2 linked regions of the Homo sapiens genome follow. The protein of the gene in region 1 purifies or fractionates together with the protein of each later gene. This does not show direct contact. Each region holds a gene or a part of one and is shown on either strand. Other genes may lie near its edges.

Region 1 (3,825 bases):
AGGTCCTTGATGATAATTTCACAAATGTTGAGACGTTTATTTCTTTAATGCCAGGTTTACATGATTAGCTTAAGTTGGAAAGCGTTTTATTATTTATTTGTTTAAATGGCCTTTATACTTTCAAAATACAAAGTGTAACAAGAATTCATTTAAATAGTAATTTTAGAGTTTTAAAAACATAATTATGTAGACTGGAGAGACTCTGGCACAGAGAATTCATTCAGGCATACCGTTGACCTGCTGCCTTGGCTGCCTCAGTGTTCGGATGCCCTGTTTTTCACCTACAGATGAACTGAGGGGAAACTCTTGAATCCTCTGTACTTGAGGTTCTTTTTGTTAACCCCAGAGAATCAAAGGTCTTATGTGTTCCGTAACCCTCTTTCTACCAAAATGTACAGCAAAAACTCTACCATTAGCCTTATAGGAATTACTTTTTTCAGAGTCATTCAGAACACTACGGTGCTAATGCCCCTTTGTGAATCACAGTAGATTTTGAAGGCTAAGTAGGAGGTGCTGAAAGTAAAGTACCCAAGAGATGGGTGATAGAAGCTGGTTTAGGTTAGTTTTATAGTAAGTAATTTGCCAGAGCTATGCAGCAGCTTTCTCTTTGATACCTCAGACTTTTCATAAAATCGCCAATTCCAGTGCCTTATTTTAAAGACACTGCCCCAGATCAGAGTTTTTGTTTTTGTTTTTTTTCAAGGAGAGATGGGTGGGAGGGGGGTTGGTTGGTTGTTTTGCCAGAATTTTATAATTAAACTATGTAAACCTTAGTAGGCCTGTAAGTTTATGAGGATATGTTTTTTTTTTTAAGTCATTTTCCACAGTAAATCAACTGTTACTGCTAGGAGGAAGTTACTTTTTAAAAAATATTTCCATAGATACTGTTAGACTAAAAGAAATAGGTAGATGCTTCAAATAGAATAATAAACTATTAAATTCAGAAAGCCACTATATATAAAAGGAAAAAGACATTGTACTTAAGTATGCAATTACTTTCTTTTTCCTGTTACAATGTTCTAGGCCAGCTGCTTTTCTGCTTACCATCATTTATGCTTATACTAAAGCATGTCTCATCTTTAAGACTAATTTTTATTTATTTGTTTCTGTAGCTGTTTCTGTACCAAATTCTACGTGGTTTGGCATATTGCCATAGAAGAAAGGTATTGCATCGAGACTTGAAACCACAGAACCTCCTCATTAATGAGAAAGGAGAATTAAAGCTAGCAGATTTTGGTATGGAATGTATGAGATATTTATTAGTACTTCCAGGTTCTAAAGTGTAATGGTTAAAAGATCAACCACTGTCATAATGTGCCATTGCTTTTATGTGGGTTTGGAAATTTTCTCGGTAGCCCACAGAATAAGATATTTGACAGAACTTTGGTTGGTGATTTATGTTGGTTATTAGCAGCAAATTCTAAAATGCACAGGCTGTTCTTGGGTGTGGACAAAGACCCCTAGGGCTCCTGAGACCCTTGTAGGAGGCCTCTAAATGTAAATATATTACCAAAATTGTACCATCTGTTATTTGCCTATTTCACTGTGTTAATATTTGCAATGATGGTCCCAAAATAATAATGCATAAAACTATACATCAAAGTAGTGGCACCAAAATATATCTTTTTTTTTTTTTTTTTTTTTTTTTTTGAAGACAGCATTTTGCTGTTAAAGCCCAGGCTGGAGTGCAGTGGTGTGATCTTGACTCACTGCAACCTCTGCCTCCCAGGTTCAAGTGACTCTCCTGCCTCAGCCTCCCAAGTAGCTGGGATTACAGGCATGCGCCACCATGCCTGGCTAATTTTGTATTTTTAGCGTGACCACCATGTTGGTCAGGCTGATCTCGAACTCCTGACCTCAGGTGGTCCACTCGCCTCGGCCTCCCAAAGTGCTGAGATTACAGGCATGAGCCACCATGCCCAGGCCGTCATTGTATTCTTTACCACTACACTTACGTAAAGGGAAAACTGTCAGTTACACTTACATGATGAAGCAATAAAATTTATTAATTATATTTAATTTCCATCCTTGACTACATTTCTTTTTAATATTTTATGTGATAAAATGGGAAGTGTACATAAAACTCATTTGCTGCACACAGAAATAATGTGGTTACTTCTCAGGGAAAAGTGCTCATGTGATTATTTGAGTGCACATTGAACTAGCCCTGTTATTTGAGGGGACACCATTTTTACTTAAATGACTGACAGACAAACTGTGGTTATTCAGACTTAGGTGTTTGGCAGACATTTTCCTGAAAGTGAATGAAGGAAGCCTATCATTTCAAGGAAAAGAACTGTCAGTATTTCTTGCCAATAATAAAATTCAAGTTTTCAAGCAAAAATTAGAGTTTGGAAATTTGGATCTGCTTTGAGTTTGATGGCTTTTCAATACTTAGAGACTTTTCTGATGAGATCGATGTTGATGTTAACAAACACGATTTTTCAATATGCTGAAAAAGTGTATAAACATTTGGAATGTATAACCCAGGGATCCACTGTTTTCCAAATGGCTAATGCATGATATTACAGAATCATGCATGGATAAAAGACCCATTTAAAGTACAAGGTCAATGAATTTTAGTGCAACAAAAGCATGAGAAGTTCATCGTTATAGGTTTTGTTAACACATAGCTTTTAAGAGACCACTTACTTTCTAGTTCTGATGTAGTGTCAAATAAGACTATTCACATTTATCAGAAAAGGCTATTAAAATGCCCCTCCTCTTTCAACCTCATATCTGTGTGAGATTTGATTTCCTTCATATATGTATGTTGTGATATGTATATTTGATCTATTTTGATACATATTGTGATATGTATCAAAGCAACATATCACGACACACAGAATGCAAAAACAGATGTGGAATCCAGTTGTCTTCTATTGAAATAGACTTTAGGCCAGACACAGTGGCTCAGGGGTGTAATCCCAGCACTTATGAGGCTGAGGTGAGAGGATCACTTGAAGCCGGGAGTTTAAGACCAGCCTGGGCAACATAGCAAGACCCCATCTCTACAAAAACAAGACTTAAAAGAGATTTACAAAAATGTGAAAGAAGGCCATTCTTCTTACTGTTTTGTTTTTATAAAAAAAATGTTTTTCATAAAAATGTCATACATGCTGCATATAAAGGGTGGTGTTTTTAAAGAGAAAATAATATTTTAAAATTTGCTAAGTTTTAATTTCTAATGTGGCAAATATCAGTAAATATATCCACAAAAATAAAAGCTCTTTAGGTCTTTGATAATTTTCAAGAGTATAAAATGGGTCTTGAGAACAATGAGTTTAGAAGCAACTACTGAAAGGCGTTCCCTTAATATACCTGCCACCATTACTCTGTATTTATTATATGCTCAGTAATTTAATTGTAGCTATTTATCTATTTTTTTTTTAGCTAATCTGGTTTTAAGGGAATTGAAAGTAAAATTAAATGCTCTTTTTGCTTCTAGAAAGTAAACTTTTTCATATTGAAGGAACTTTGTAGAGCAGCTTTGAATTTTTTGTATTCCGCATTCTGAGAGTTTGAATACTCTTAGAGAACTTAGTTTTTAAAAACCCATGCAGTTTTCCATAACTAAATTCATAATTTTTTTTCATAAATGATTATGGTAGTTTTTTGGTTGTTTGTTTTGAGACAGGGTCTTGCTCTGTCACCCTGGCTGAAGTCTAGTGGTGCAATCTCAGCTCACTACAACCTTCGCCTTCTGGGTTCAAGCGATTCTGGTGCCTCAGCCTCCCAAATAGCTGCAATTACAGGGGTGCCCACCACGCCCAGCTAATTTTTGTATTTTTAGTAGAGATGGGGTTTCACCATGTTGTTCAGGCT
Region 2 (3,825 bases), on another chromosome or scaffold:
CTTTTGTTAGTATCACCACCAATTGTATTAAAAAATCTTTAAGTATTGAGAAGCTGTTAAACTCACATAATAAGGTACAAGTTTCTCCAAATCCTGATTTTTAGTTTGAAAGCTTGAATTTTATCATTGCAACAAATAGTGTTATTTTCTTGAAGTGACAGGCTTCATTTTTTTAAAACTTTTTATTTATTTATCTTTTGAGACTGAGTCTCACTCTGTTGCCCAGGCTGGAGGGCACTGGTGCCATCTTCGCTCACTGTAACCTCTGCCTTCCGGGTTCAAGTGATTCTCCTGCCTCAGCCTCCTGAGTAGCCGGGACTGCGGGCGCCTGTCACCATGCCTGGCTAATTTTTGTATTAGTAGAGATGGGGTTTCACCCTGTTGGCCAGGCTGGTCTCGAACTCCTGACCTCAAGTGATCCACCCGCCTCAGCCTCCCAAGGTGCTGGGATTATAGGCATGAGCCACCACACCTGGCCACTTCTTTCATTTTTGAGAATGACATTTGTACTTTCAAGTAAAAATGATATTCTGTGAAAAAAAAATGGCTTGTTTAGCTCACAATTAAATCACAAGTGCTTTTCCTTAACACAACTCTACCTCGGTATGCAGAATTACTTTATGTGAACTTTCTGCTTACTCCAGAATAGTGAAAAGAAAGGTCAAGATTTAATAATACCATTAATTTTTACTGCTTCAGCAAGGATATTCATGAGTGAAGCAGGTGTTTTTCTTAAACTGCAAGAGGCAGTAAAGAGTAGCATAACTTCTAGTATAATTTGGTAGCACTGCCTTGATTCATGCTGAGAAGCCAGCAGTTTGCCCACTTTTGCTGTTATACACTCATTACAAATGTCATACAGTCAAAAAGCAAGCAATACCTTAGTATTCTTTTTTTTTAAATTATTTTTATTTCTAAATTTTCAATCAGCTTTCTCAGGTTGAATAAGTATTCTTAAAAGAACAGTTTTGACCTCAAGGACCTCTTGGAAAAGGATCTAGAGGGTCTCCAGAAGTCCACAGACCACACTTGGAGAACCACTGGTTTTATTAAATGAGCACAATGTATTAGTTTTATAAACTTGTAAAGATTATCAAAGCCTTGTCTCTTTTAAAATAAAAAGACAATAAGGTTTTTAACTCATCAAACTACTTAAACAAATACATGTCAAGAATGTAATACGGAGAACTAGAAAGGAAAAGCCTGGGAAATCTGAATTTCATTCACAGTCATTAAAGTTCTAAAGAGTTTATTGCCCACCACTACTGCTGTGTAAAACGTTCTTGAGTTCCAATGAGGGGTTAGAAGAGTGAAAATATACTTTATTACCATTGCCTGTTAGGGAGGGCCAATACTTAAAGGCAATTCTGAATCGTCATTGTAGAAAAGACCTCACAGTACAGAACCTCATATGCTGAGTAAAAAGAGGTCAGGAAATCCTCTGAAGGCTGGCATCCCGGAGAAGAATTTGTACAACTCTTTGCTTTGGTGAAGCAAACACCAAAGCAAACAGGAGGCATCTCCCGCCACCCCCAGCAGACATTTTACTCAGATATTAACAATTCCTGAATTAACTTCTTCAATGCATATTCTTATTTTATAGAGATGCAAATAGATCCCTGGATATTTTTGATGAGAGATCACATCCACTTACAGTAAGTGTCACTTTTTTTGAGGTAGTATTTTTCTCTCATAGAGTTGTGTTTATTTCATGCTGATATTTATAAATAGTCCTAACAAATATACATGATCTCTATGAAGATAATTAGAAAACAATTTAAATTTAAATCAATTAAAATGGTGTAAACATTTAAAAATTCACTTCCTCAGGTATATGATAGCCGCTCGTGGCTAATGACTATTGTCTTGGACAGTGAAGCCTTTGAGCCTTATGGTTACAGGAAACTAAAGATATTTTTTCAGGCCGGGCACGGTGGCTCATGCCTGTAATCTCAGCACTTTGGGAGGCCGAGGCAGGCGGATCACGAGGTCAGGAGATCAAGACCATCCTGGCTAACACAGTGAAACCCCGTCTCTACTAAAAATACAAAAAATTAGCCGGGCACGGTGGCAGGCGCCTGTAGTCCCAGCTACTTGGGAGGCTGAGGCAGGAGAATGGCGTGAACGTGGAAGGCGGAGCTTGCAGTGAGCCAAGATCGCTCCACTGCACTCCAGCCTGGGCGACAGTGAGACTCCATCTCAAAAAAAAAAAATTTTTCAAAGTGTATTTAAGAGAATCCTAACATATGATTAGTAAGACTTTCGAGCCTACAAGTAGTTTACATTTTGATAGAATTCTGTGGATAGAAAGTGGAAAGGAACATAAAAATTTTCTGAGTTGTGCCTGTATTTTTCCTTAATGATAAATGGTGATGAGTATTGAATCACTATGATATTTTAAGATCCAATTGTTTATATTTTAAAAACTAAAAGTCATGTCACTCAACCAGAATTATTTTAAGGGGTACATGGGCTCAAACGTCAACACTGCTGGTCTTAGGAGTACTTAGGCCAGCTGGGCATGGTGGCTCACCCCTGTAATCCCAGCTCTTTGGGAGGCCGAGGTGGGCAGATCATGAGGTCAGGAGTTTGAGACCAGCCTGGCCAGCATGGTGAAACCCTGCCTCTGTTAAAAATACAAAAAATTAGCCGGACATGTTGGTGCACGCCTGTAATCCCAGCTACTCAGGAGGCTGAGGCAGGAGAATCACTTGAACCTGGGAGGTGGAGGTTGCAGTGAGCCGAGATTGTGCCACTGCATTCCAGCCTGGGCGACAGAGCAAGACTGGGTCTCAAAAAAAAAAAAAAAAGTACTTAGGCCGGGCGTGGTGTCTCACGCGTGTAATCCCAGCACTTTGGGAGGCCAAGGCAGGTGGATTGCCTGAGGTCAGGAGTTTGAGACCAGCCTGACCAACATGTTGAAACCCCGTCTCTACTAAAAATACAAAAACTAGCTGGGCGTGGTGGCGGGTGCCTGTAATCCTAGCTACTCAGGAGGCTGAGGCAGGAGAATCACTTAAACCCGGGGGGTAGAGGTTGCAGTGAGCCAAGATCATGCCATTGCACTCCAGCCTGGGCAGTAAGAGTGAAACTCAGTCTCAAAAAAAAAAAAAAAAAGCTTAAAATTTTTTTCTTCAGTGGATACTAACATTGCATCTTTTCTTCTTTCAGCGAGAAAAAGTTCCAGAGGAATACTTTAAGCATGATCCTGAGCACAAATTTATTTACAGATTTGTTCGTACTCTTTTTAGTGCTGCACAGCTAACAGCTGAATGTGCAATAGTAACTTTGGTAAGATATTTCTCATTTATAAAGTGTCTTTAGAAATTAGTCTTGTACACAGGGTATGGTCCTATTTTTCAAATAAAAATAGGTTCCTGAAATTATCATCAGAACTTTAAGAGAAACCTATGAAAGGAACATAAATACGTACATTCGCGTTTAATCATCATTATGGTTGAACATGTTTCCATTGCTTTTCTCATCACAGAACAGTTGCTACAAAAGGCAGCCGGGGAGATTTCTGGTTTCTCCCCCTACCCATCAATGCACATGTACACATTCAGTGTGTACACATACAAGGCATGGTGGCAGGGCTGGGGGTGATGGGGAGTGGTAACAAAACCATGTGGTTCAGAGCCAGATACTGATTCCAGTGTAGGTCTAAGCCAAGTCCCAGGCTCTATTCCCCAGGTATTTCCGATATGTGTGGTGATTGAGAACTATTGCCCTAAATTCTTTGTTCCTTGGATGATGGGTTTTAATCATCTCTGCCTACCTCTTGTGCCTGCTCGTGATGTTGCCCAGCAATGTGGTACCAGCAAT

The links.
Region 2: the proteins of CDK17 (region 1) and CCNYL1 purify together in Homo sapiens (affinity purification with mass spectrometry; one large-scale study listed by BioGRID and IntAct). This does not show direct contact.

Annotation. Positions count from the first base shown.
Region 1 is NC_000012.12:96,292,410-96,296,234, reverse strand, and holds part of CDK17 (cyclin-dependent kinase 17), read left to right. Parts: intron 1-1,112; coding exon 1,113-1,236; intron 1,237-3,825. UniProt on the Homo sapiens protein: May play a role in terminally differentiated neurons. Has a Ser/Thr-phosphorylating activity for histone H1.
Region 2 is NC_000002.12:207,739,052-207,742,876, forward strand, and holds part of CCNYL1 (cyclin-Y-like protein 1), read left to right. Parts: intron 1-1,603; coding exon 1,604-1,655; intron 1,656-3,171; coding exon 3,172-3,291; intron 3,292-3,825. UniProt on the Homo sapiens protein: Key regulator of Wnt signaling implicated in various biological processes including male fertility, embryonic neurogenesis and cortex development. Activates the cyclin-dependent kinase CDK16, and promotes sperm maturation.